7 linked regions of the Homo sapiens genome follow. The protein of the gene in region 1 purifies or fractionates together with the protein of each later gene. This does not show direct contact. Each region holds a gene or a part of one and is shown on either strand. Other genes may lie near its edges. The genes, in order: GPR161, UBE2Q1, GNB4, DNAAF8, RTN4, ATP2B2 and USP12.

What was found.
Region 2: the proteins of GPR161 (region 1) and UBE2Q1 purify together in Homo sapiens (affinity purification with mass spectrometry; one large-scale study listed by BioGRID and IntAct). This does not show direct contact.
Region 3: the proteins of GPR161 (region 1) and GNB4 purify together in Homo sapiens (affinity purification with mass spectrometry; one large-scale study listed by BioGRID and IntAct). This does not show direct contact.
Region 4: the proteins of GPR161 (region 1) and DNAAF8 purify together in Homo sapiens (affinity purification with mass spectrometry; one large-scale study listed by BioGRID and IntAct). This does not show direct contact.
Region 5: the proteins of GPR161 (region 1) and RTN4 purify together in Homo sapiens (affinity purification with mass spectrometry; 2 studies listed by BioGRID and IntAct, with this or other methods). This does not show direct contact.
Region 6: the proteins of GPR161 (region 1) and ATP2B2 purify together in Homo sapiens (affinity purification with mass spectrometry; 2 studies listed by BioGRID and IntAct, with this or other methods). This does not show direct contact.
Region 7: the proteins of GPR161 (region 1) and USP12 purify together in Homo sapiens (affinity purification with mass spectrometry; 2 studies listed by BioGRID and IntAct, with this or other methods). This does not show direct contact.

What each region holds. Positions count from the first base shown.
Region 1 is NC_000001.11:168,133,754-168,138,427, forward strand, and holds the start of GPR161 (G-protein coupled receptor 161), read right to left. Parts: upstream 3,178-4,674; 5' UTR 2,986-3,177; exon of another isoform or gene 2,644-2,985; coding exon of another isoform or gene 2,504-2,643; exon of another isoform or gene 2,257-2,503; intron 1,284-2,256; exon of another isoform or gene 1,169-1,283; coding exon of another isoform or gene 1,153-1,168; intron 169-1,152; exon of another isoform or gene 123-168; intron 1-122. UniProt on the Homo sapiens protein: Key negative regulator of Shh signaling, which promotes the processing of GLI3 into GLI3R during neural tube development.
Region 2 is NC_000001.11:154,551,939-154,556,030, forward strand, and holds part of UBE2Q1 (ubiquitin-conjugating enzyme E2 Q1), read right to left. Parts: intron 4,027-4,092; coding exon 3,922-4,026; intron 3,595-3,921; coding exon 3,490-3,594; intron 3,091-3,489; exon of another isoform or gene 2,848-3,090; coding exon 2,797-2,847; exon of another isoform or gene 2,712-2,796; intron 1,735-2,711; exon of another isoform or gene 1,671-1,734; intron 1,235-1,670; coding exon 1,094-1,234; intron 883-1,093; coding exon 798-882; intron 527-797; coding exon 466-526; intron 246-465; coding exon 155-245; intron 42-154; coding exon 1-41. UniProt on the Homo sapiens protein: Catalyzes the covalent attachment of ubiquitin to other proteins. May be involved in hormonal homeostasis in females. Involved in regulation of B4GALT1 cell surface expression, B4GALT1-mediated cell adhesion to laminin and embryoid body formation.
Region 3 is NC_000003.12:179,402,712-179,406,803, reverse strand, and holds part of GNB4 (guanine nucleotide-binding protein subunit beta-4), read left to right. Parts: intron 1-1,397; coding exon 1,398-1,614; intron 1,615-4,092. UniProt on the Homo sapiens protein: Guanine nucleotide-binding proteins (G proteins) are involved as a modulator or transducer in various transmembrane signaling systems.
Region 4 is NC_000016.10:4,746,818-4,750,089, forward strand, and holds the end of DNAAF8 (dynein axonemal assembly factor 8), read left to right. Parts: intron 1-109; coding exon 110-208; intron 209-525; coding exon 526-808; 3' UTR 809-817; intron 818-1,421; exon of another isoform or gene 1,422-1,907; 3' UTR 1,908-2,579; downstream 2,580-3,272. UniProt on the Homo sapiens protein: In cyliated cells, dynein axonemal particle-specific protein required for deployment of ODA to the axoneme. Interacts with outer dynein arm (ODA) subunits.
Region 5 is NC_000002.12:55,040,343-55,044,434, forward strand, and holds part of RTN4 (reticulon-4), read right to left. Parts: intron 1-4,092. UniProt on the Homo sapiens protein: Required to induce the formation and stabilization of endoplasmic reticulum (ER) tubules. They regulate membrane morphogenesis in the ER by promoting tubular ER production.
Region 6 is NC_000003.12:10,341,130-10,345,221, forward strand, and holds part of ATP2B2 (plasma membrane calcium-transporting ATPase 2), read right to left. Parts: intron 1,837-4,092; coding exon 1,623-1,836; intron 1-1,622. UniProt on the Homo sapiens protein: ATP-driven Ca(2+) ion pump involved in the maintenance of basal intracellular Ca(2+) levels in specialized cells of cerebellar circuit and vestibular and cochlear systems.
Region 7 is NC_000013.11:27,091,317-27,095,408, forward strand, and holds part of USP12 (ubiquitin carboxyl-terminal hydrolase 12), read right to left. Parts: intron 1-4,092. UniProt on the Homo sapiens protein: Deubiquitinating enzyme that plays various roles in the regulation of the immune response and inflammation.

The sequences.
Region 1 (4,674 bases):
CCCAGCTTCATTTATGTATTTTTTCAAGTATATTCAATATATTCAGGTTGGTCCTAAAGTGAGAAATGTAGGTAATACTTTTTTATCATGTTTTATATAATAGCAATAAACTATATATTCACCTATGTTTCCAGGCTTGGTGACCATATTGAGCACACTGAAAAAGACCTAAAAAGACAGACATTTACAGTGGTTATCTCAAAGGTGGGGAGAAGGAGTAGAGAAGAGGTGGAGGGGAATTTAATTTATTTTCCTATATGTTACTGTGTTTTAAAATATTTACAGCTCTTAGTTTTGAAAAATTACTATATTCCATGAATGCTTTACATTATTTACCTAAGGTCACAAGTTTATAAGGGGCAGGGCTGGGAGGTAGGCTGTCTGACTTCAGATAGTGCTCTTAACACAGTGTTCTCTCACCCATTGCTTGAGTATAAAACAAACACAAACTAAAATAAAATTGAAATATACCTCCTCATGCTTTACCCCTGGCCAACTGCAAATTCCTTCCTTTATGCTCCAGCACTCCCTGAACATATTTGCCATGAATGCTATCCTCTCCCCTGCTGAGCACATAAAATGTGCAAGGAAATAGATTAAAACTAGTTGTAAGCCTTTTCTCTTGGTGTAGAAACAGAGTCATAGACGAGTACTGGGTGAATGAATGAAGTATGGAGTCATAAAGTCAATCCCTCCTCCAAACTCCAGGTAGCACTGATAGCTATCTCTAGTTCTGTTGATGTTTTTTGTTCTTATAGAAAAACAGCAAGAAGACACCATTTCTCCCCTGCTGTCATGCTTTACTGCATCTCAGAATGACAGTCAGTGCTTCCCAAGGTCTCACACAGAAGACGCAAGCAGCCTGCACACATAATTTGGTTAAACTGCACGCACATTAAAAAAAATGTTTTGAATCAGTTGCTATCTTTAAAAATATATGAAGCTTGTTTTCCGTAAAAATTTACAGTTTCCCCCAAAACTAAGATCAGGCAACCATGTGCTGGAGCCCCACCGCACCTGCAGCTGCCCCCTTACTGGAGACAGGCTTAGCAGCACACAGCTCCCACCCAGCCCTCCTGTCCACCCGCCTCCTGCACTCAGGCTTCCTGACTGGTCCCTGCTGGCAGTGGAGTTTACACCACAGAACTGTACCTCCTCTTGCTGACATTTAGGTCAGTTCCAGTTCAGCCCATTCTGTCTTCCTCGGAACCCAAACAGAGAGCTCGCAGCCCTCTGACCACACAGTGCTCCTTCACCTCTCAGAGGACGCACAGTGCACCAGGCTGCAACACAAAGAGAACGGTTCGGATATCGTTGCGGCCTTGGATTAGTTCCAAAATGTCAAGCGGGCCTCTTAATGAGGGGTCTCTATTCTTGATGTTATGGCAGTGGAGCTACAGGGCAGGGAGAAGCCCTGAGTTAAAGAACTCACCTGTGTGCCATCAGGAAACCACGTGAAAAGCACTACCAAGGCAAAAGATCTGAGTTCAATCTGGGCTGCTTACCTAGCTGGGCAAGAATGCTTCATCTCTCCTGAGCCTCAGTTTCCTCACCTATCAAATGGGCTAGTAGAGCTTCACAAGGTTGTTGTGTGAATGAAAAAGTGTACATGAAAGTGCTTGTAAGCACCTGACAAGTATAAAATAAGACGGGTGTGGAGGAGGACCGGAAGAGAGGTGCTCTGAAAGAAGTAACAGAAATGGGTGCCATGCATTCCAGTTACAGTTGAAGAGCCTCTGTCTCTATGACCTGAGGTCCCTCCCACCTCCTCTTTCTGCCCTGAGGGCCTGAAAAATGCCTCTCTTCACTTGCTCCCAGTGGCTGCAGTAAAATAGATTATAAGGGAAAACCGCCTATTCCCCGAAGCAGTAGCTCTCCAGAACTCATCTGGAGGTCCAGGTCACTAGGGGAGAAGAAGCCAGGCTGAATCCACGCCTGGCTCCACGGAGGAGCCACAAGGATGGCCATCCTCCCCCAGCCCCTAGGACGCTGAGACAGGCTCACCGGAGGTTATCGGTGTCTCCATTGGACAATCAAGGAACTGAGGTTCTTTCCCTCCAAAACCACACACCTCCTCACGGCTTCACCGGGAGGTGGATCAAATGACCTGCTCTATGAAAGCACTTTGCAAAAGGGATGAAAGTACAATAACAAGCAAAAATAGCCTCCAAGATGTGATATAAAGCGATGCCAATGCGCAGCTATGTGGTTACTGGTGAGCAGACCTCCGGGAAGCACAGGACACACCCCACTTACCCAACAGACGTTCTCATCCCATATGCCTTTGTCCAAAGGTTGCACGGGGGTTAAGCTTGGCCCAGAAGGCGCCGAGGGCTGGTCGAGTTCTCCCCTTTCCAAGAACCAGCCGAATCTCCCTCCCGCAGATCTGAGGGGCAGAGCCGCCCATCCGGCGGCGCCGGGCCACTTCTGGGCGCGCCACCCGCCGCCCGCCCAGGCTCGGGGAGACAGCGCCCTGAGTCCCGGCTGGGAGAAGGCTGCTCACCTGGTCCTCACGGATTCCAGCCGAGGGGCGTGACCGCTTCTCCCCACACCCTTTGCCCTGAGCGGGACGTGGAGTCTCTTGGCCCCAGGGGGCGCGGCCCGCATCGGCAGAGTCCCGGGCACGCACCTACGCCCTCCCATCCAGCGGACTGTTTAGGGGCTTCGGGCGGCGCCGGAGAAACGGGGCGGGCTGCACCCAGCAGAATGGGGTGGGCCTCTCAGAAGCCCCAGGCCGCAGGGGAGGGGCGCGCCCCCAACATCTTCCCACAAAGAGCTCCAGCTCTCCAAAGCAAGGCGCAGTGCGGGCGGAGGACAGCCCTGACCTCCGAGAGGGGCGCGGGGAGAAAGGGAGCGCCGTGGGGGCGGGGACCCTTCCCGGCCCGCGCCCTGAGCCCTCAGCCTCGCACAATGAGTTTAGCCTGGCTCCATCCGGACCGCCCTCTCCGCCCGGGCCCGCGCCCGCGCCCCACGCCGGGTGCTCACCGAGGAGCGGCCGCCGCGGCAGCTCAGGCCCCGGCCCAGCCGCCTCCCCGCCTCGGCCACCGCCGCCGCCGCTTCCTTCCTCCCCGCCGCGCTCCGGGACTGGAGGTTTCGGGTTTCAGCCCACCGAGCCCCGCTTCGCTCCTCCCGCGGGCCAGCCACCAGCACGCGGACCCGGGCGGGCGCAGGCCAAGTAACTTTGCGGCGCCCGCGCCCCGCCCCGCCCCCCCCACGCCCGGCCGGGCCCCTCCGGCCCCCGGAGCCCCGAGCCGCCTCCCCGCGCCCCGCACTGCCCCGCCCCGCCCAGCTCCCGGCGCCCCTCCCCACCCGCGCCCCTTCCTTCGCGTCCGTCCGCCCGCCCTCCCGGCTGCTTCTTTCCCATTTCTTCCCACGAACAGCCTCGGCTGCTGCTCTTTGTCTCGCCCTTACCCTCTCGGCTCGCCCCACTTTTCTCCTGAAAACCTTTGTGGTGCCTAACTCAGGCCTTCCCTGTTCCCGTTCCTCCGCCCCAGTTCCAGCCGCTGGGACGTCGCCTTTTCCATGTCTCTCTCCATCACACAGACACTTTCAGATTCTTCCCGCAGGCTCCGCACAGTCCCATTCTCCTCCTCCAGTCCCGCCGTGGACGATCCTGGTATCGCCTTTGCTGCTCACCTTTCATTCATCCAGCCGACGGGCACGAGCATCCATCTGCCTTCTGCCAGGCTCTGTCCCGGGCTCTGTTAATACCACAGTGAATTCGTCCCGAAGCCAGCCCCGGGGAGTGGGGAGTGGACGTAAACAGGTCTTCACACTGCTGCCCTGCACTCCCTCGGAACCAAAAGGCCAGGGAGCAGTCATCACAAAACAAAGAGCGGGCGCTGTCAGCTCGGGGGACGGAACAGTTCCTTCTCAGAATGTTTGTTTTCCCTTCCTCACTCCCCACTTTGCCTGCCTGTCTCCAGACTCCTACGTTTTCTATGCAGCAGTCTTAATAAGGGGATGAAAAGTTGAAGCACAGAGTAGAACTGCTAAAAAGGGAAAGAAGGAAGGACAAACAGGGCAGCAAAATAATCAGGTAAGAAGTTACAAAGCCCAGTTCACTAAACTCCAGAAAAAAAAAAACAAACCCTGATGCTGTGCTTAGAGCAGGATTCACATTCCTCTGAAATCCATCTGCTTTGATAAATACATTAATTATTCCCTTGTCTACAGATTGACACTGTGGGAGATGCTTCCTTAATATTATTGGGCCACTGAGGCACAATTTAGAACAGTAATTTACTGTCTGGCACCTGCCAAACACCCACATTGCTCTGGGGACAAATGGGATAATGGGGAGAAAAAAGTAAATGGGTGCCTTAATATTCCTATGGGATAAATGCTTTATTTGGTCAAAAACTGGAAGCTGACGCTCCACTTAAGAGTCTAGGTCACGCGGCAAGCCAGACACTTGAAGGAGCTTAAAGCTTTCTGTTCTTAATAGTATTTTAGACACTTATTTTGAAATCCCTGATATTTATTTAATTTACACTGACTCAGATGTCGGCTAAGCTCTATGAGCCTGAGGGAGTGAGTTAACCTTCCTCTCAGCTTATTCATATATAAAATGGGGATACTCATACTTTCCTATCTGTAGAGTTGAAAAGGTTAAATGAGGTCATGTAAGTAAATCATCCAGTGACATAGAATCTGAGAACTAAACCCTTTTGA
Region 2 (4,092 bases), about 14 Mb from region 1:
GACACAACCCTGACAAATGGTGGGTCAAAGGGAAAGTTATCCTGAGAGAGAGAGAGACGACAATCAGGGGAGGGAGGCCAGCATCCTCCACAGGACTGTCAGGCAGACTGGGCAGCCTAGGCCAGAGGGAGAGACTGGAAAAGAAAAGTCTTACTTTAAAGGAAAAGTTAAGTAGAATGAAGTCGGCTCCTTCTTTCTCTTTGAGGATCTGGAGATCGTTGTGCAAAGCGCTGTCCTGGTCAACTCTAAGAAGCAACAAGCCTGGGCTCAGATGCCTGGTTCCACCTCAGGAGCTTCATAAGGGCTCCCCTGCCCTGGCTGGCAGCAGACCACGAAACCACTGCCCACACCCGCTCCGGGACCCTGAATGAAAATGCTGGATGGGGCTGCCCTGGAGATCCCACCACAGTAGCCCCACTCACACTCCTCCTCAACTTCCTCTCCAATCCCAGAGTCCCCACTCACTTGAGGAGTTTGACATTCCAATCATACAGACTGTCATTCACGAGTTCGACTGCATAGTTTCCTGGAAGGAGGGAAAAAACAGGTGTTAGTAGAATGGTCCAGGTGGTGAGTGGTCTCTAATGCAGACCCCTTTCCCAGACTGAGAGAAAAAGATCAACAGCTCTAGGTTCACCACAGATGGACATGCAACCAAGCCACTGGCTTGAGGAGCTCCATTCTTGGCCTGAAAAGTTCATAAGCACTCCTGGACCCCAGAACCTCTTGGGCCCCTTGCCACCATACCCTTCTTTATGGGTGACTCTTGTGCAGGCCCCTCTCTGGGGCAAACTCACCGCCTTTGAAACTCTGTGATCGGTATATATCCCTGAGCTCCTTCATCAGCCGGTCAGTGGCCTGCACCGAGCCAGACACTGCACCCTGTGAGGGACGGATGACAGGAACATTCCTTGGTCGTGTGGTTTATAAACACACGTTAGACCTTAGGGGCAGTCTGGCAGCTTGCCCAGGATTTAAGAAAGGATTAGGCACAAAAAAGGAGTCTGCTCTCCATACTGAGATGCGATGGCCTACTACTTCCCAGCCATTTCCCACCAACCCCTTCACCAGCCTCTCTCTAGAAGGCACGTACATTTAAGTAATCTTGCCTCTGGTTCTTTTTAATTTTCTCTAGGATGGCCAAGTTTTCTTTTCCAATGCCATCATCTTCAGATTTCTTGCCCTCAGCTGGCTCTTCCTCTTTCATTTCATAGTGATCTAAGTCTTCTGTGTCCTGGAGGAGGTGTGGGGTGGGAGTGAAAAGAAAAGGAAAAAAACCGACACAGGTTAGAGAATGACCATCACCTTCCCAGTCCCATTTGGCGAAGAGCCAAAAGTTAAAGTGAAGCAGTCCATCTAGCAGTCTTATAAACGCAACGTGCTTTCCATTTTTAGAACAATTTCCAGCCCCATTCCCTCCACAGTCTAAATCTTCAGCTCTCAAGCTACAGCAAGGACTTCGGAAACGAGCAGAGCTGCAGCTGAGATCGAGGCAGGGACTTAGCCCTCTTGTTTCCTGGACTGACCCTGCTCCAACTGTTCCTAAAACTCCCTTGGCAGCAGAAACTCTTCCCTAATTCCTAGCAGAAATGACTTGGGCCTGACCCTGTGACTCAAAGCTCATGTTTCACCAGGTGACTATTGCACCCGGGAGTTCTCAGGGCCCCAAGCCTAAAGGAGAAACCTGAATCATTACATCTCCTCTCCTCGCTACAAATGCAAGGCATGAATCAGGTATGCAGAGGCACGCACTGCCAGATGGAAATGAGAAAGGATGTCCAGAGAGATATATGGAAGAGGTCAAGAACAGAATTAGCCCCTTATTCATCCTGCTCTAAGTGAGCAAGCAACTAGCTCACTGAGCATAGGGAAGGAGGAGAACCTATGTAGGGTTGAGCCCCTCAGCCAGATGTTGGGGGTGTGGCCCAGAGGGCTGTCCACTATCTGGGAGGAGTAAATTTCATGTCGTCAGCCCTTTGCCAGTCTCAAGAACCTTACACGGTTATAGAACCTGGGATATTAATCTAATGCTAGGAAATAAAAGTAATCAGAGTGATCTCCCCATTTCTGGCAGGACATACCTAATTACCACACCAGCAGGTAATGTCTACTGAGTGTTTATTACATGCCAGGTTCTGTCCTAGGTGCCGCAGATACTAGCTCATTTCATTCTTACCACCATCACTCATTATTCTATCATTATCCATTTTATAGATGCGGAAGCTGAGTCTAGTGAGGTCAATTATCATGCCCAAAGTCACAGCTCTTAGCAGAGCTAAGATTCAGTCAAGTTCTGTCTAGCTCTAAAGCTCAAATTCCTAACCATGATTTTATATTCTGTATGTTTTTAGAGAATATATCAGATAGATTGTTTAGCATTTATCATGTATCATCTGAAGCATTTTATATATAACACCTCATTTAATCTCAAGACAACCATATGCAGTAGGTATTATAATCCTACTTTATAGATAAGAAAACTGTAGCTTAGTGAGATTACATAAAATTCCTCAATTAGGATAGCTAGGATGCAAACACAGGTTTGTTGGACTCCAAAGCCATTTGAAATTAACTTACCCAGTATTTGGTTTGAACCGCGCTGCACCTGTCTTCAGTGGTTGGATATGGGTGCCCTGTCTCCTCTACTACACTGGCTATTCCTCCAGGTCAGTAAATCTGTCTTTATTCCTTTGATATTTTTCTCTCTCCAGTTTTAGACTGGAGTTCTGGATATGGGTACCAATGTTGCTGACTGCAAGAGCTTCCAGCCAATGCCACCTCAGGGGGCAAGCCTACCTCAGGCATCTCCTCATCTTCATCTTCTGAAGACACGTCTTCCTGTGTGCACTGCAGCAAGGAAGGGAAAGATGGAGATCAGAGCCCCAGTGGCTTGCTAGAATGCAGCCTCCAACCTACTCCCCTGAGCCCCCAGGTCTGGAAGTTGTGCGCCTGCCTGTAATGCTGCCAGTCTCTCCACCAGCCAGATCTGAGTGGAAGCAACAGCCCAGGGAATGGCTTTGCTACCAGCCCATTATTTTTCGCCTATCACTGCCAAAGAATAAAAGAAAAGCAAAATGGCTGTCTCTGTCACCCACCTCCTAAATCCTAGTTTAATTCTCCTAAGAACCCCTCCTTTACTTGATCTTCTTTAGACTGATATTGCATTCTTGGTTCTCACCAAGGGGCCTGGGTCCCCAGTGGCCACCAACTGTTATTGCTAAGATAATGGTAAAAATTCCCCCGCTCCCTTTCAACATCTGGGATGCTGCCCATGAGAATGAATTTTGATATCAGAGATGAAGCTACCAGTGCCCCATTTAGCAAAAGAAGATTCCCATCTGGAGAAGAACGAGGGTGAGAGTCATAAGACGTGTATGTTTTTGGGAGCCGGTGGGGATGGAGAGAAACTACTGATTTGTCTCAATTATTTACTGAGTACCCTGTGGGGCAACTCTGCACAACAGGGCCCGAGGCTCCTCAGCTGCTCACCTGCTCTGCTGGCAAGGGTTGATCCAGCATCTCCACATCTGGATGCTGAGGGAGGTTATAGAGTTTACACAGGTCGGAGATGATCCTCTTCAGATGCTGCAATAGCTACAGGTAGGGGAGCACAGAGACATCAAATCCTTCCCCACTCCGATCTGGATAAGTGCATGGATGAGCTCTTAGTTTGGGCCCCACACCAATAACTAGTTCTCTAAGCCTTATGGGCCACGTGGCTGTGGGAATGAGTCTCCTGATGGACCAATCCCAGGGCCGATGCAGGGTCTCCCTCTGGCTTCAGTAAGCAACTCCCCCGAGAGGTCATCCCCTAAATGTTTAGCTGTGTACCGTCCACTTTTCAGGATCCCTTTCACAGGATGCCTTTGTGGCATGGGCCTCATAAGAACAAAATGTACCCCTACCCTGTGGCCCCCTCACCAGAGTATTCCCTTTCTTTATGTCCACCAGCCTCTCCAAGACAGCAGCCAAGTTAGGGTCATCAGACTCCACCGACCAGATGGGGGGCACAGCAGGGTATGACTCCTGAAGGGAAAAGAGCAATAAGAGCAATCAAAATGGGTGACTCTGGGAAAAGCCAGATTTTGCCTG
Region 3 (4,092 bases), on another chromosome or scaffold:
GTCTCTACTAAAAATGCAAAAAAATTAGCCAGGCGTTGTGGTGCATGCCTGTAATCCCAGCTACTGAGGAGACTGAGGCAGGAGAAGCACTTGAACCCAGGAGGCAGAAGTTGTAGTGAGCTGAGATTGTACCACTGCACTCCAGCCTGGGTGACAGAGCAAGACTCTGTCTCAAAAATAACAAAAAAAAGTAATTAAAAGAAACCAACACATCCTGTTGAATTTAAGAGTATCAAAAGATGGGAGAAAATTCAAGATGAAAACGCAGATTACCTAGATATAAAAGATTAAAAACCAAGCTAACCTCACACTTTTTCACAATAGACACTGCTGAAAGGCTCCTGAACAGTATCTGCCAAGTGTTAAGGGAGAAATACTGTGACCCAATAATTTTAAGTATCAGAGATCATAGTCATGATGTGGGGAGGAAATACACTACATATAATACAGGATAAGAGATTAAGACCAAGAATAATCACTTAAGGCATTACACGTAAATGATTACTGCTATTAAAAGATACAGAATAAACTGAACTATAATGTTGTATGCAAGAAACACACCTAAAACAAAATGACCCAGGAAGGCTAAATGTAACAGTAAGAGAGTGGGTAAGTCATAAACTGGAAGGAAATCTGTAGTAATATTACTATATTACTATTAACCGAAGTAGAATTGGAGCAAAAACTATAAGATGAGAGAAGTTTTATCTTAATGAAAGGGACAGTAGTGATGCTATAACATTGAAATTCATAAAACAAAAGCCATTAAAAATTCAAGGACCCAAAACACCATTGTGTAGGAGACTTTAGTAGACAACTTGGAAATACTGATATCTTAAGAAGGCACGAAATAAGATGCTGAGGATTTGAATAGTGTTATTTAATAATGTTGACTTGAGAGTATATTGTAAATTGCACCATATTTGGGTTTTACCAAATACACAGTATATTACCTTTCTAAAATCTGAAAAATTCTGAATTCTGAAAAAGAACTGTCCCGAGGGGTCCTTATAACCCTATAAGGATTGTGGACCTTTTATCTCCTTGCCATTCGTTCTACAACAGCCACACACACACACATATATATTCTATAAATATTAGTACTTGCTTTAAATGTTTCAACATGACATATGGAGAACCAGAGCCAGTATTTGTTGAATACTTGCTGTGTTCTGAACAATGGGCTGTGTACTTTGCATATGTTATTTAATTCAGTCTTAATCACCACTTTGAAATGGAATCTGAGGCTCAAAATATTTAAGAATCTTTAGTGCCCAACATCGCTCACCTGGTAGGTAGCCAAGTTGGAATATTAATCTAGATTTGTCTATTATTACATTGCCTCCTATGATTGTGCATACATCTGTAGAATAAATGTTTGTTACTTTCCTGTCTAGTTTTTCCCAAATGGATATGCCTTCGCCACTGGCTCTGATGATGCCACTTGCCGGCTCTTTGACCTTCGTGCAGATCAAGAGTTATTATTGTATTCTCATGACAATATCATCTGTGGAATCACTTCTGTAGCCTTCTCAAAAAGTGGGCGTCTCTTGTTGGCTGGTTACGATGACTTTAATTGTAATGTATGGGACACGCTAAAAGGAGATCGTGCAGGTTAGTAAATAAGTCCACATTAGGTTCTGATTTTCAGGAAGCGTGAAGAGGTTCCCATCAGTTGTGTTCTAGGCCTCCATGGACATCTTGGAGTTGTGGAAAGTGGTAACCCGATGGTTCTCATCATGTTCTTTGTTGTTACCTTTTGTTTGTGGTTATAATCCATAAGCCATATTTACACTTTTGCTTTCTGAAGAATCACACTGAGGTCTGTAATATTTTCTTATTTGGTAGACTTCAGAATTAAAGATGGATAGTGAATGTGATTCAGTGTGGTCTTTTAGAAATCACACTTTTCTTATCACCTGACAGGAAACATTGTAACTGCTGGTTTTCTTCCTTCTGAAGCAGATCTTGTATGGGACAGGACATAGACCTGTCGCTTCCCTTAGCCCCATACCCTGAGTCCTCCTCTGCAGCTTCTACAAGATGACAATACACATTAAGCCATACTGGGGACTGTCATTAATAACAAGTCATACAGAGTAATTTTTAGCTATTTTTAAAAATCAAAATTATACTTAAAGGAATCCAGTTGTCCTATATAGCTTGTTACCAAAACACAGCAGTTGCTTCATCCCCAACCCATAGTTTCTGCTCCCCAAAGTAACTACATTTAGTAATTTACCTACCCCTCCTCTCTCCCCGCCCCCTTTGTTTTGTTTTGTTGGGACAGGGTCTCTTTATGTTGCTAAGGTTGGTTTCTTCCCGCCTCAGCCTCTGGAGTAGCTGGGATTACAGGCTTGAATCACCTCACCTGGCTTACTTACATATCTCTAAATAACATGCCTGTATTGCTGTTACTTGTTTAAAAAAATAAAAATTCAGGTGTTATCTGTTGTTGACCTATTATCATGGATGAGAAGGGTTGGGTTTTAAGCTGCTCCTGCCGTAGCCATGTTCTTCCCAACCAGTTTTTCCCATATGATAGATTTTGTTTAGAACCACATTCACTGTTTACATAATTCCGACTTTTTAAAAAGTCATTTGCTGCTGAGCCATGAGATGTGTTATGACTTCTTTTGCCATGCAGCTTTTTTGTATTTTCTAGAGTTAATTTTTTGGTTTATATTCTTAGTTTCTATGTGCTTCTCACTAATGAATCTTCACACTTTATGCCAGTTTTGATGTGTCTCGGAGCGGATCCATTTTCGTTCATTGTGCTGGGTATTTAGTGAGCCTTTTTGATCCGGAAACTCATTACCCTATAGAACAGGGACATTTGGGGGTGGGGGCTTGTTGAATTTTATTTCTTCTCTATTATCATCATTCCCTTTTTCTAGATCTCCCATTATGTTGAAAATGGGCTTCCTGGACTGATCCTTTTGACTTTTTTTGTTTTTTAAGAATTTTTATTTTACTTAACTTTATTTTATTTTATTTTATTTTTTTGAGACGGAGTCTTGCTCTGTTGCCCAGGCTGGAGTGCAGTGGCATGATCTTGGCTCACTGCAGCCTCTGCCTCCCAGGTTCCAGCGATTCTCCTGCCTCAGCCTCCCGAGTAGACTAGCTGGGATTACAAGTGCACACCACCACGCCCAGCTAATTTTTGTATTTTCAGTAGAGGTGGAGTTTCACCATGTTGGTCAGGCTGGTCTCGAACTCCTGACCTCAGGTGATCTGCCCACCTCAGCCTCCCAAAGTGCTGGGATTACAGGCGTGAGCCACTGCGCCCGGCCTGACTTTTTAATTATATTTTTTATTTTCCATCTTTTTTGCTTTATCTTCTGGGAGGAAACCTCACCTCAGGTTTCCACCCTTCTGTTAAGTTTTGGTTTTCATTTTCGCTACCATCTTTTTAACTTAAGAGCTATTATTAGTGAAAGAATTTTTTTTTTAAGTTTCTTCTTCAAGCATCATCTTTTGTGTTTCCAAGTTTTTTTTTTCTTCATTTTTGGGGTTTCCTGTCTTTATTTTTAGAATATTTCCTTAAAAGTGTTAATTCTTATTCATACTTAAGAGCGAGGCACTAAAACCATTTGAAGCTCTGGGCACGTGGCTGGTGTGCTGACTCGGCCTCCATTTACTCTAGGCTGGCCGTTCACTGAGGAAGCTTTGCTGTGTCTGCCTTTCTGCCTTTCTTCCTTTTTCCATCTTCCACTTTCCTCCATGAAGTGTATAAACTGGCTGCCAGTTTGAGGGCTGATTTCAAGAGAAAACCTGAGGGACCACAACATTTAGCTAGTAAACTTTATTCCCCATTTCAGCACAGTTTTATCAATCGCATCTGTGCCTGTTTTCTTCCAGTCAGGAGACCCTGTTTTACCCTTTCCTCTGAGTGAGTCTCTGGCCTTACGCCACAGCGCAGGATGATCTGTCACCTGACTGCAGAGTGGAGGAAGGGGACACCTGGGGGCTCTTACTGATTGATGAACACTTTCCAGCACAATCTTATTTTACTCTGCCTTTGCCCCTACCTGTTCCAGAGATACCTGGTTCTACCTAGTAGGGACACTTTTGGAGAATCTGCAGTGTAAT
Region 4 (3,272 bases), on another chromosome or scaffold:
TGACCTCTTGCATTGGGTCACCAGCAAAGCCCGAGTGCTTCAAGCCCCAACAAGAGTTGGAACACCAGGTGGAGTGGGCACATCCAGAAACCCATTTCTCTCCCTGCAGCTCCAGCCACAGCTCCTCTGACAGTGAGGAGGAGGAGGAGGAAGAGATGGCAGCTCTGGGAGACGCAGAGGGGGCATCTCCTTCCTCCCTGGGGCTACGGTAACCACCCAGGGGCCTCTCGCCACCTGCAGATGTCCCACCTCTGCTTTCTGCAGCAAGCCCTCCACCTGGCACATTTACCGCCTGTGGTGAGGTCTTGCTGCACCCACCGCACAGGGTGAGGGGGACGGCACAGCTTTCATCATCCTGCCCACGTCCACTGGGTCCCAGCAGTGGCAGCAGTGATGGGCTGCCTGAATTGCATTCTTGCTCTGAAATGGGAGCTGGGCTCATCTGCTTTTCTCCTGTTTCAGTAAGGAGGGCTGGGAGGGGCGGCCCCCACGGGGTTGAGTGAATTTGGTCTCATTGTGTCACAGGACCTGTACCGGGAAAAGCCAGCTTCTCCAGCAGCTCAGGGCCTTTCAGAAGGGGACAGCCCAGCCCGAGCTGCCTGCCAGCAAGGGGCCCGCGGGTGGGAGGGCTCAGGCCCCTGAAGACACAGCTGGATCACGAACTGGGAGGAAGCAACACATGAAGCTCTGTGCCAAGGGGCAGAGCGCCCAGGCTCGACTCCCAAGAGGCAGGCCCAGAGCCCTGGGGGATGTTCCTGAGCCAGGGGCAGCCAGGGAGGCCCTGATGCCTCCTCTGGAGCAACTATAGCTGCCTCAGGTAGTGGGATCCCAGGAGTGGGCAGGGGCGGGCTGACTTGCCATGGACCCTGGGCCCCGGTGTCCCCTTGTTGTTCCTGCATTTCCACTAGCAGGGGCATTCCAGAGGCAGGGACCCTCAGACTTTGGACTGTTGCCCACCCTGTTAGAGCTCAGTCACAGGTGCATGAACTTAGAGGAAGGATGCAGATACAAATCTGTATGTAACCTGTGACAACAGCTTTGGGATAAAGGGGCCTGGTCCTCTGAGGGAGATGGGCAGGGACAGCAGGAGGACGGGGTGCTGCTCTCTGCGGGACTCTGAGGCTCTTCATCTTTCTCCAGTTCTGCATTTTTTTAAACAGGCATCTATTATTTCCATCAATAAGGTCTTTTTAAAAACCAAGTAAAACGTATTTAGAGGATTTTAGGGTTGAAAGAGACCTAAGCCTTATTTTCTGGCTTCCTGCATACTTGCTATTTTGGGCACCTAAATTAACACACGACACACACATGCCTACCCACACAGATCTAATACACGTGGTTTTTTCTCTTTTCGAGACGCAGCAGCTGGGACTACAGGTGCACACCACCATGTCCAGCTAATTTTTTTTTTTTTTTTTTTTGTAGAGATGGGGTCTCACGGTGTTGCCCAGGTTGGTCTGGAACTCCTCTCAATCCTCCTGCCTAGGCCTTCCACAGTGCTGGGATTATAGCACTGTGAGCTGCCAGCCTGGCTTTTAATGAACTTTTTGAAAGAGGAGTAACGAGAATTTGCTTTCTCTTTCTCTTCTTTACCTAAGATAGAAAGGCACACATAGATTCTCAAGGCCTTTGACCTTTATGAATCTAGACAGAATACTGGAAACCCCTGGAAATGCTGTCCTGTGTAGAATGGAGCAGCGGCCTCACTTGTTGATCACCAGCAAAAACTGGGGACATCTGCTTGCCCCCTGCCAAGACCCGGCCCCTCCACAGGACAAGCCTGGTCTTCCTGGGTCCTGTTCCTTTGCCAGCACCGTCTTGCAGCCCCGTCTTCACGGGATGCTTTTGTAACTGCTGTGATCAGCCCTGACCTGGGCACCTGTTTGTCTCCCCAACCTTGTCTCCAGGATGTGTCCTGCTGTCTGCCCCGTGGGAAGAGCAGAGAAATCATCACCACCTTGGGCCCCACGGTGCCACGGGCTCAGGCAGCACAGTAGGGCGCCGGGCCTTTGGGACAGTGTCCCAGCTTCCCCTGGGGTTCACCCCTGGCTGCCAGGCCACTGAGGATGGGCAGGGGTCTCTTCTCATCAAGCCTTGTACCAGGCAAAAGACAGGCCCTGCTTGGCCGTGGTCACTGGCCGCCAAGATCAGGGCTACAGATGTCTGCTCTCTGGACCCCACGTGATCTGGCCACTGGGGACCCCCACCCGACCCCACTCCCAATGATGAGGGGCATTTTCATTGCAAGTCAAAGGCAAGACAGGCTTCCATAAAGTCCCAGGAGGTCCCTCCTGTAGGGCACAAGGCCAGGCTGCCTCCCAGCCCCCAGGCCCTCTCCCACCTACAGAGACCCTCCCCTGCCCCCTCCACTCCGGGGCCTGTGCCGCCAGAACCGGGCTCTGCCCCCATACGCTGCCCTCGCAGCCTGGCGGCCTCCGCTGTGGCTGCCTAGCTGTCAAGAGCAAAGGCTTTTTTTTTCTTCAACCCCATTTTCTTCCATTTCTCCCACCTTTTTAATGCCAGTAACCTCACTGAGAATGTTTTACAGTGATGGAAAATAAACTCTGTTCCAAGTTCAACTCTGAATTACTGTGTCTGTCAAGGCAAGGGGAGTGAGGTAGGAAGTCAGACCTGCGTCCAAAGCTGGCTCTGCCACCTGGGCAAGGTTTTCACGCTCCCAGTGCCCAGTTCCTCCACCCACAGAAGGAGAATCATGGCCGGGCGCGGTGGCTCACGCCTGTAATCCCAGCACTTTGGGAGGCCGAGGTGGGTGGATCACAAGGTCGGGAGTTCAAGACCAGCCTGACCAACATGGAGAAACCCCATCTCTACTAAAAATACAAAAATTAGCCAGGCGTAGTGGTGCGCACCTGTAATCCCAGCTACTCAGGAGGCTGAGGCAGGAGAATCACTTGAACCTGGGAGGTGGAGGTTGTGGTGAGCCAAGATCGTGCCTTGCACTCCAGCCTGGGTAATGAAGTGAGACTGTGTCTCAAAACAAAACAAAAAAAGGAGACTAATGGGAGTCCCCCCTCACTGGACTGCATGAGATAACATCACAGCACACGCAGGCACCTGGGACTCACAGCTCCTACAAAACTCTCCCATCACGTGAGTGCTGAGGATGACGCCCATGAGATGGGGCCAAGCAGCAGGCAGCGACCATGAGATGGGGCCAAGCAGCAGCCAGTGGGAGGCCACAGCCTCGGCAGGGGGAGGGAAGTGGGCAGACCCCAACCACACTCCCCCAGAGGCCGCCACCTCCAGCACAG
Region 5 (4,092 bases), on another chromosome or scaffold:
TACAAGCATCTTTGGTAACCTCTTCAGAAGAGAATAAATAAAAGTAAATTCCCTTATTTTCTGAGATCAAAACCTCTAGTAGCTTAAAAAAAAAAAGTTGTAACACTTTTAGGTCACCTCCATCTACGGTTGTCAGGGCACTGAGATAAATGAACTCAATAATGGCACCTTCCATTTAGGCGAGTTTATAAATCAACCTACAAAGTTGGGGAGAAAGAACACGTAGGCAGACCTGGAATCCTTAAGTAAGCTTCTCTCTTTCCACAAAAGCAGTTCACAGATCTGTAAATATGTCCTGTAAGGCCAATCACAAAACTCCTCTGGTTTTAAGAGCAGAAAATTCTTTACAACTAAGGGCCTGTATTTTTTCCTTCATCTGCTACCTATACCTCTCATAAGTACAACCTCTATTCATCTTTCTTGTCCTCTTACTCAGCCCTAGGCCTAGTTAAAAAAAAAAAGGAATATATTAATTTTTTTCTTAATATTGAACTTCCAAGAGACCACCAATATAAGCAGCAACTCCAAACTCTTGAACAACAAAACTTTATAAACTTTCTGTATCTGTGGTAACAATTCCATCAATGAGAAAAACAAGCTATTAAAGAAATAATTATTTTTGAAAAGTAGAGGGCCACCTATGTAAAGAGACTGCTTTAAAAAAAAAAAATCCAGTATTTGGCAGCTATAGCTCCTAATACAAGAGTACAGAGAATATTTCTTTCTTTCTCAACACAATTTTTTTTTTTTTTTGGAAATGAAAAAGCAGGAAGACTTAGCTTTCTTTCTCAGTCAATTATCAATTGAAAAGAGAGAGCCAAATACCTGTATAATTCAGTATGTTACAAGGAGGCTAGAATATTTATTTTTAAAAGTCTCTAGTTCACCTAATTATATGCTAAATTTTTTTTAAATACATGTTAATAAAAACCACGTGTTTATGGAAAAATACACAATATCAACACCGAATGTATTTCAATTCTCCCCAAAATTAATCCATAAATGTAATGCAACCTACTAAAACTCCAACAGAGGGAGAGGGGACAAGATAAAAAAAATTTTAAGATGAAGTAGAAAATTATACACACATAAGATAGCCAAGAAAAATATTTATGGAAAAGCCGTTTAGCTAGTATTTAAAAATTATAGCACAACAGTCTGATACTTCTGTGTGAACTGACAGATAAATGGAAAAGCAGAGGAAATATTTCACCCATACTACAAGAATATGACAAAAATGGTACTTCAAAGTGGTTAAGAAGGATAATTCAAAATAAAAGGTATTGGAACAAATGGGAAATAATCTTGAAATATAAAATTATTTCACTACTTCACTCTCTAGAACAAAACAAACTGCAAATAAATCAAATAATTAAATGTTAAAATGAAATCATAAAAAGTATAAAAGTACTTACTAGGAGTAAACATGGGGGAAAATTTTTATGATCCTCAAGAAGGATTTTCTAAGGATTACATAAAACTCAATGACTTTTTTCACTTTTATGACTCAAAGTCATAAAAGAAAATGATAAATCTGACTACATAAAAATTTCTAAACAGAAAAACATACCATATGGTCAAAATACAAATAACAAATCAATAAAAAGTTTTCAAGACATATGACAAAAGGCTAGTTTCCTTACAATGCAGATTAAGTGAATCTACATACATGAGACCAAAAACCCAAAAGAATAGGCAAAAGCTGTGATCAGAAAAAATTTGACACCTAAGCCTATGAAAAATGACTCAAATTTAAAAGAACAATTTGCTAAACAATGTATTAGTTCACTAATATACTGTGTTGGTAAAGATATAAGGGAAAAGGTACCTTAACAGGTTGGTGGGAATAAAGGTTGGAACCATTCTTTGAATGACACTTTGGCATTAGCTACCAACATTTTAAATGCAAATATCCTTTGAAGCAGTAATTCTACTTGCACAGATTTATCCTACAACATATATAATGGCATGTATTCCCAAAGAAGTGTATACAAGAGTGTTCACAGAAATAGTATTTGTAAGAGAAAAAACTAAGTATCAACCTAAATAACCATCAATAAGGGACTGATTAAATAAAATATGGTACATCCCCAGAGTCCTCTGCATCTATTTTTGTGGAAAATAAAGTGAAAAGGATATACATGTATAAATAAATATTTATCCACAGATTATCTCTAAACAGATACTCAAGAAACTACTAACAGAGGGTGGATCTACAGAAGACAATTTGTGGAAATCTGGGTAACAGGTAGAAAGAGTTACTTTTCTGTGTATTCTTGTAGTACTGTTTGGAATTGTTACCTTGTATACATAAATAAATAAATGCTTTCGTAAGATTTGGGATTTTTATTGAGAGAAGATATTATAGTAATTCTAGAACTATACAGAATATGAAGATCAGCATCTTTCTCATTCAACAAACTGAGTGCCTATCACATCTAAGGCACTGCAATGCAGACACAATGCATACAGTCCTTTTCCTCAAAGAAAAAGGTCACAGCACCTTTCCTCAAGGAGTACACTGTCTGGTGGAGGAAAGAAATCAGTAACCATACCATTACCTTATATAGAATGATATATACTATGAAGAGGTAAGAACAGAATATTATGGAAACACGTGATGAAAGCAACTTAAAAATCAATGATCATCATTCCAAGAAACATAAATATCAATAGCTTAAATATGAAATTATCAACTCCTCCTTTGGGGTTAAAAAGGATGATGATGGCATTAGTCTGAGAAAATCTTAGCATCAGTAAAGCTGGGTCTCATCATTTTGCATACCTATGTCCTGCACTAGCTATCCACAAAGGTCACATTCATTCAAACACTACTGAGAACTATGGTTTTACCATTACAGTTCCCATCCCTAGTGCTGTCATCCTCAGAAGAACCTGATCCCTTTAGAAACAGGAACAAAAAGTCTCAAAGAATGTACCATAAGTATAGTATATCTGCAACATTTACTTCTATTTATTTAAGGGTTCCAGGGAAGAATCAAGAAATAGCCATTCAGTTTATACTTTTATCCTGGGCTAGCAAAGTACCTTAAAAAGGAACCATTAAATTGAGGCTTTGAATCAAGTTATTCTAATAAGTTGCTTGAAGGTATATTATGAAAATAAATGGCGGGGCACAGTGGCTCACACCTGTAATTTCAACACTTTCAGAAGTCGAGGTGGGAGAACTGCTTGAGCCCAGGAGTTCAAGACCAACCTGGCCAACATAGTAAGACCCCATCTTTAAAAAAATAAAAATAAGGCTGGGAGCAGTGGCTCACACCTGTAATCCCAGAATTGTGGGACACCGAGGCAGGTGGGTCACCTGAGGTCAGGAGTTCAAGACCAGCCTGGCCAACATGGTGAAACCCCGTCTCTACTAAGAATACAAAAATTAGCCAGGTGTGGTGGCACATGCCTGTGGTCCCAGCTACTCGGGAGGCTGAGGCAGGAGAATTGCTGGAACCTAGGAGGTGGAGGTTGCAGTGAGCCAAGATTGCGCCACTGCACTCCAGCCTGGGCTACAGAGCAAGACTCCACCTCAAAAATAAAATAAAATAAAAATAAAAATAAAAATATATTTAGGCTGGGTGTGGTGGCTCACGCCTGTAAACCCAGCACTTCGAGAAGACTGCTTGACCTCAGGAATTTGAGCCCAGCCTGGGCAACATGGCGAAACCCTATCTGCACGAAAAACACAAAAATTAGCCGGGCGTGGTGGTACGTGCCTGTGGTCCCAGCTAGTTGGGAGGCTGAGGTGGCAGGATCACTTGAGCCCAGAAGATGAGGCTGCAGTGAGCCAAGACTGCACCACTATACTTTAGCCTGGGTGAAAGAGCAAGACCCTGTCTCCAAAATATAAATACATAAATATAAAAGTTTTTTTAAAAAATTTTAAAAATAGCCAGCATGGTGGTGTGCACCTGTAGTCTCAGCTACCTGGGGGGCTGAAGTGGGAGGACTGCTTAAGCCCAGGAGGTCAAGGGTATAGTGAGCCATAATCATGCCACTGCACTCCAGCCTGAGCGACAGAGTAAGACTCTGTCTCAAAAGAAACAAACAAACAAACAAACAAACAAAAAAACTTGCCAG
Region 6 (4,092 bases), on another chromosome or scaffold:
ACAAGCTCATGGGGCTGTTACTAGAGATGCCAATTCCTATATGGAGCCCAGGACTTCTGGGCTAGGCTGGCTCTGGACCCTCCCATGTGGCTTCATTCTAACACCTGAGCTGTCACATGGCAGGGCACTGCTGTGTAGACGCTGCTGATAGGGTGTCTGATGCAGTCCTGTATCCTTTTTGTTTTGTTTTGTTTTGTTTTTGAGATGGAGTCTCGTTGTTGCCCAGGCTGGAGGACAGTGGCGTGATCTCAGCTCACTGCAACACCCGCCTCCTGGGTTCAAGTGATTCTCCTGCTTTAGCCTCTCAAGTAGCTGGGATTACAGGTGCGCACCATCACGCCCGGCTAATTTTTGTATTTTTAGTAGAGATGGGGTTTCTCCATGTTGGCCATGCTGGTCTCGAATTCCTGACCTCAAGTGATCCACCCGCCTCGGCCTCCCAAAGTGCTGGGATTACAGGCATGAGCCACTGCACCTGGCCAAGTCCTGTGTCCTTTTGCACAGCTGAGTAAAGTGGTGCCAGGAGGCTTGTGGAGTTTTCTGGGTGTGAGATGTCCCAAGACTACCCAGGGTAGGTGCTGCTCAAGTGGTCAAGCCAGCAAGCCGACCAGGACCCCCGCTCTCCTCTCCTCTCCAACCCCTCCACCTCCTCTGAGTCTCTTCTAGTTCTGCATATAAGTGGCTTCCTCTAAGCTTTTTCATGATAAGTTTTACAACAGTAAAATGTGTCCTGACAACACACTACTTTCAAAATTTATAAAAGGCAACTAACTGCCTTTGAGGAATGGATCCATGCCCACCTCCATCACACTCTGGGCTTTGAGGACAAGTGAAAGGCCAGCTCCGGGAGGCTCCTGTAAGGAGAGAACTGGCCCTGATTCCATGTGGGACTGCGGGCCAGACCCTTCCCCTCTCTGGGCCTCTGTTTCCCCATCTGTGACCTGGGGATAGGCTTTGTTGGGATTGCCTCCGAAGCATCTGTGGAAACCAGGCCAGTCTTGGCCCCAGCCAGACCTGGTTCTGTGCCCAGACTCTTCCTCAGACTGGCTGTGTGCCCTTGGGCAAGTCACCTCACCTCTCTGAGCCTTGGTGCCCTCGTTTGTAATGTGGGGTGGAGGCAAATGTGCTTGCCTCACTGAGTGGAAGACCCAACCAGGCAGCCCAAGTGGAAGCATTGTGAGAGTCGGTGGTGGTGTGAGCGTGTATGCCCTGCCCCAGGAAGCCTTGCTGAGGGTCCCTTCCACGGGGCCAGGATAAGGTGCTGGAATGGGTCAGAGAAGGGGTGAGTCACTCCCCTCCCAGCCTCAGGTGCCTCTGGGGCTGCCATGCAGTGCTTCAGCACCCGGTCAGGGCCTTGCACGGTCTGTACTTGTTGCCAGGAGCTGTCACCAGTGGAGAAAGCCACTGATGGCTTTAGGGTTAGCCAGAGCTGGGACAGGGCCAGGCCCTGTTCAAGACTTGCTGGTGTGACCTTGGGCAACTTACTTGACCTCCCTGGGCCTCAATTTCCCCATTAGCAAAACAGGAGGGGGTTGTGACTCGAGAATGCTGGGTGAGAGCCATGGTGCACCCAGAAGGTGATGACCCCGCCTGGGAGAGGCGTGGGTGGGCGAGGCGCTCACCAACAAAGAGCAGGGTGAAGATGAGGGCAAGCTGGTAGACAGCATGGCCCAGGATGTTCTTCATCATGGTCCTGGAGATGAGCGGCTTGTTGCGGCCGTACGGCTTCCTCAGCAGCAGGGTCTCCGTGGGCGGCTCAGTGGCCAGTGCCAGCGAGGCAAACGTGTCCATGATGAGGTTCACCCAGAGCATCTGCACGGCCTTCAGAGGGGAGTCCTGGGGACGGGCAGGAGAGGGCTGTCACCTGTGCGCCCACCTGCTGCTGTGAAGTGCTGGGCGGGCTCATGGTGTAGTGTCCGCAGGCTCCTGCTGGAGGCTGGAGTCCGACCTGCCCCTTGGCTCCCCAGCAGGCATGGAGTTGTTCTCTGATGCCTTCTCTGGAGAACAGTGCAGACCTGCCCACCTCAGCCACATCTTCCCTGCCAGGAGATAAGTGAGTCCCCCCAGGCCCAATGGCCACCAGCTCCCTGCCTTCTGGTAAATTCAGCTGCATCTCACCATCTTCCCCTCTCCCCTCCAGCCCCCGAGGAGGGGGTCTCTCCTGGCTGAGGCCAAGACCATTCCCACCGCCTCCGGCATGGGCTCCTACCTCCTCCCCCCACTGCCTCCTCCCCCTCGGGCTTTCTATCCTACAAACAGTGCCCGTCCCCCACCCCCCCAATGTCTCCTCCCCTCTTATCCCGCCTTACCTTAAAAAATTATTGTGCGTATCTATGACTCAAAAATTAATACATTTCAAGGTAGGAAATATGGCAAATGAGGAATAGCAAAAGCAACTAAAACTGTCAAGGACCTCACCACTTTTAGGTCACCACTGTCCAGGTTCTGGGAGGGACCCTTTCAGACCTGTCTCTTTGGCTGAGAGGAGCTGGTTCTTCTGTCCCCATCCTTCCTCACACCCCCACGTATCTTGTCCACAGCAGCCAGACTTTGGCCCCTCCACGTTCCCAGAATGCCCTCCGCCCACGTCACCAGCACCTTCTGTGCCACGAGTTGCAGGACCTCTTCTCGGCCAGATGTCACTGACCTCGCCCCTGCACTCCCACTTGTAATCCTGACCCCACTCTCCTGGTCGTCGTCCTCCCTTCCTTTTAAATCTGTGTTCCTGCCTCAGCCCCATTCTCCTCCTCGTCCTGTGGCTTTAGTTACATCCGTCTAGTGGCCTGTGGAACACCTCCTCCAGGAAGCCCCCAGACCCTGTAAGCTCAACAGCCCAAACCCGATGCTCTTCCCACCTCTGTTCTCTCCCAAAGCCCCATATACCTGCATCCCTTCCACTCATCACCTCCCAGGTTTCATCACAGCCCCTGCTCCTGGCTTTCTCTCTCACCTCCTCCTTGCCTCAGCCTCGCTCCCCTTGCCCCCGTCCTCCCCACCCCGGGCTTTCTCTAATTCCATATACCTCAGGGTCAAGTGTGCCCGTCTTCTTATCAATGCTGCATGGCCTCGCCACCAACTCAATCAAAGACCTCAGGCAAACTGATAGTGGTCTCAGAATCTCAGTTTCCCTATCTGGCATCAAGACCTTCTGGTTTCCAAGTTGCTGGGGCCGCAGGAGTGTTCCTCAAGCTGCCACTAGAGGGAGTGTCTCATCCACAGGCCAGGAAAGAGGGCCCTTCTGAGCAAAAGGAAGCCCCCAGCCACCCTCCCAAGGCTCCGATTCTCAGGGCTGGGGTAGCCGGAGCTGCCACCTATATTCCCCCAGCGCAGGAAGCAACAGAGGGGAGCAGTGTTCCAGCGCCACACAGCTCTTGGGGCAGTGCTGCACTCTGGGCCTCTGGGGGCTCCTGTGGGCATGGGCTTGTCTGCCCAGGTGGCTACTGGGAGTGTTGGGCCTTGGGGATCCCCTGGGGCTAAGGGAGACCCATTCTTGCCTCCCTGGCCAGGCTGGTCAGCCCCTGTGGGGAGTATCAGGAGACTGCAAGAACAATGGCAGGTCCCTGGCCAGTCCATCCTCTGAGCCTCAGTTTCTGCCTCTGTAAAATGAGGATCATCACAGTTCCCACCTCATGGAGCTGCATGAAGAAGCAGTCAGTCTGCAGACATCTGGGGCCTGCCTGCCAGGCTCAGTGCATAGGGCTGCTCCAGACCCAGTCGTGGTATCTGGCCAGACTCCTCTGTGACCTTCCCAGTGAGCAAGATCCCCGACTCCCTCCAGTTATCCCCACCTAGCACCTCCTAAGGCACTCCACACTCCAGTCCAGAGCCAGGGCCCCAGGGCCCCCACTGGCTCTTTGTCCTCACCTGGATGCCTGATCCCCCTTGGGCCCTGGCCTGCCCCTCCCTGCCTCCCTCTGCCCTCGTGGTGGCCAAGGGCCCTGCCTTCTCTTGAGGATTCCCTCTCCTGCCTCCTGCAGTGAGGGCCAGGCTGTGAGCCTGACAGCTCCCATTTGCTGGGTGACCTTGAACAAGTCACGCCACCTCTCTGAGCCTCATGTCCTCGACTCCCCTGGGGCCAGTGCCTGCACCTGA
Region 7 (4,092 bases), on another chromosome or scaffold:
TTTCTCAAAATCAATTTTGTATTCCTCAAAATGAAGTCCTCAGACACTGCCTCAGGGGTCTTCATTTGAAATGTTCCTTTTATGATCATGTAAAAACCTAGACACAAGGATGCTCTAGATCACCTGGGTGCATGAGTTACTACGTTTATATTTGCGATTGAGTTGGTGCCAAGCGGTCATCAAGTAGGACAGTATTCCACTTTTCAAAGTGGTTGTAAAGACATCTGGCTGCTATTGGACTAATATGTCCTAATGTCATGTCATGCACAATATGGGGAGATCCCAGTCTAAAACTCAGGGAAGAAGTCTAGGGTGGAGATCTGGAGTTGAGACTCATCAGCACATGTGATAATAAAATGGAACATGATCATGATCCTCCCAATTCAGAGTGAGAAGCAACCGACAATGAAACCCTGGGGAACACCCACATTTAAAGAATGGAAAAAGAGAAGCCAAGGAATGAGACTGAAAAGGAACCCTCATAGAGAACACCAGAAAAGGGTGTTATAGACACCAGCTTCCTACCACCTGAGACATTACCAATTGCATTTCTAAAATACAAGCATGAGCTCCTCCAGGAAGCTGGTCCTTTACCTGTCCAAATCCTTCCCACTCCCACCTGGGTTAGGTCTACTATTCTCTGGCTGGCATGGCATCCTGTGCATACACATACGATAACACACTGTACTGGAACTGCCTGAACACTGCTTTGCCAGTCTTCATTACCATAGGAGTATCTTGTGATCAGAGGCTTATGTCTTACTCATCTTCTACCATCTTCTACCTGGCATAGTTGGTGCTTAGCACCCCCCAAAATGAATACTTAAATATAAATCTAACAAAACACGCATGGTATTGATATGAGGAAGAACTACCAAACTCCAATGAAAGATAGCAAAAAAAGTGGTAAATAAGGGGAGACAGTGCATGTACTTAGATAAGAAGACTCAACTTTGTCAAGATATCATTTTTTTCCCAACTTCATCTATAGGTTCAGCAAAATCCTTATCAAAATCCCAGCAAGTTATTTTGTGGATATCGACGAACTTGATTCTAAAGTTTACATGGAGAGGCAAAAGACCCAGAATAGCCAACAAAATATTGAAGAAGAACAAAGTCAGAGGACTGAGACTACCTGACTTTAAGACTTACTCTAAAGCTACGGTAATCAAGACAGTGTGGTAGTGGGGAAAGAACAGATATACGGACCAACAGGACAGAAGACAGTGACCAGAAATACACTCACACAAATAAGAGTCAACTCATCTTTGACAAAGGAGCAAAGGCAATTCAACAGAGAAAGAATTGTCTTTTAAACAAATGATGCTGGAGCAGATGGACATCCACATGCAAAAAAATTAACCCAGAATAAACTTTCTAATACCTTATACAGAAATTAACTCAAAAAGGATCATAGACTTAAATATAAAATGAAAAACTATATAATTCCTAGATAACATAGGAGAAATTCTAAGGGACCTTTAGTTTATGGATGACTTTTTAGATACAACACCAAAAGTATAATGCATGAAAGAAAAAGTTGGACTTTATTAAAATTAAAAACTGATAATTAAAACATTAAAAACTTCTGCTCTGCCAGCCAGGCCCGGTGGCTCACGCCTGTAATTCCAGCACTTTAGGAGGCCAAGGTGGGTGGATCACTTGAGGTCGGGAGTTCAAGACCAGCCTGACCAACATGGAGAAACCCTGTCTCTATTAAAATTACAAAATTAGCCGGGCGTGGTGGCGCGTGCCTGTAATCCTGGCTACTAGGGAGGCTGACACAAGAGAACCACTTGAACCCAGGAGGCAGAGGTTGCGGTGAGCCACTGCGCTCCAGCCTGGGCAACGAGAGCGAAACTCCATCTCAAAAAAAAAAAACTTCCACTCTGCCAAAAACAGTGTTAAAAGAATGAAAAACAAGTCACGGACTGGGAGAAAATATTTGCCAAAGACCCACCTGATTATGAACTAGTAGCCAAAATTATACCCGAAAAAAAAAACCCACTTAAAATTCGACAATACTCAAAGAAAAACAGCCTGATTAAAAAATGGACAAAAGATCTGGACACATCACTAAAGAGATATAGATGATAAATAAGCAGACAAAAAGATGATCAACATCATATGTCATTAGGGCCTTGCAAATTAACATGAGATAACACTACACACTTATTAGAATGGCCAAAATCCAACTGACAACACCAAATGTCAGCAAGGATGTGGAGAAACAAGAACTCTCATTCACTGCTGGTAAGAAGGAAAAATCGTACAGCCACTGTGGAAGACAGAATGTTGGTTTCTTATCAAACTAAGTATACTCTTACCATACAATCCAGTGATCCTGCTCCTTGATATTTACACAAAGGAAGTAAAAACTCACATCCACACAAAAACCTGCACACAAATGTTTATAGCAGCTTTATTCATAATTGGCAAAACTTGGAAGCAACCAAGACGTCCTTCAGTAAGTGAATGAACTTTAAAAACTGCAGCACATCCTTACAGTGGAAATGTTGCTCAGCCAAAAATAAAGGAAATAAGTTATCAAGCCTTAAAAAGACATGGAAGAACCTTAAATGCATATTGCTAAGTGGAAGAAGCTAATCCAAACAGGCTGCATACTATATGATTTCAACTACACAATATTCTGGAAAAGGCAAAACTATGGAGACTTTACAGGACTCTTAGCTTTCTTGCTTGTGGACCCTATTTTCCAATGTTATTAAAAACTAGCAGCACAACTGTCACAGTAAAGATGAGATCAGGCAAAATCATAAATGCATGCTAAATCTTGGGTGAGATTTTGATGAGGAGGGAGGTATTTGTGTCTCCCCACAGACTGCCTACTAATTGCAAGGGGATTTAAAAAAAAAAAAAAAAGTCATCATAAAGTGGAGAAACTGGCCCAGCACGGTGGATCATGTCTGTAATCCCAACACTCTGGGAGGCTGAGGCAGGTGGGTTACTTGAGGGCAGGAGTTCAAGACCAGCCTGGGTAACACAGCAAGACTCTGTCTCAAAAAAGTTTAAAAACTAGCTGGGGGTGATGGCATGCACTGTAGTCCTAGTTACTCAGAAGGCTGAGGCAGGAGGATCACTTGAGCCCAGGAGTCTTGGGGCTATAATGATCTATAACAGTGTCACTGCACTAAAGCCTGGGCGACAGAGCAAGAACCTGTCTCCAAATAAATAAATCAAATGGAGAAACACCACCACCTTGACTGGGTGATCAAAAATTAATTTCACCAATGAGAGGCAGATGGATATTGTGTGCCTACAGACGTGATGCCCCGAGAAAAACACAACATGAATGATATATTATTATTAGCCATGAATGCATAACCTGCATCTAGTTAGGAAGAAACATCAGAGAAACTAAATATGAGAACATCTGATTTTAAAAAGGTGAGGGAGGCATATTCTCAAAAAAAAAAAGACCATGTAAATGTTTCAGGTTAAAGAAGGCTAAAGAAACAACTAAATGCAATGTCCCCCTCTAAATTGGATTCTGTACTGAATAGGGAAAATGCTATAAAGAACATGACTGGCCGGGCATAATGGCTCACACCTGTAATCCCAGAACTTTGAGAGGCCAAGGTGGAAAGACTGCTTGAGCCCAGGAGTTCAAGACCAGCCTGAGCAACACAGTAAGACCCCTGTCTCTACAAAAAATAAAAATTTAAAAATTAGCTGGGTGTGGTGGCACGTGCTCGTGGTCCTTGCTACTTATGAGGCTTAGATGGAAGGATTGCTTGAGCCCAGGAAGTCGAGGCTACAGTGAGCTGAGATTGGGCCACTGCACTCCAGCCTGGGTGTAACAATTTTCAAGCTTCATCTTTACAAAGTGTCCAGCAAGTGGGATTTTTTCCCCTCCTTGAGGGTACACTGTATGCTTTAGTTTTTATCCCAACAATGGATACTAAAGGTAATCGTAGAAAAAGGAAAAACGAATTAATATGCCTCCCTGATCTGTATGATCCTATGAGATTATGTCATAAGACATAATTTCCACAACATGGTTCTATGGCCTCCTAAACTGAAAGAAAATCAAACAGTTCAAGCTACAGTAAGTATCTTTCTATCACCTCA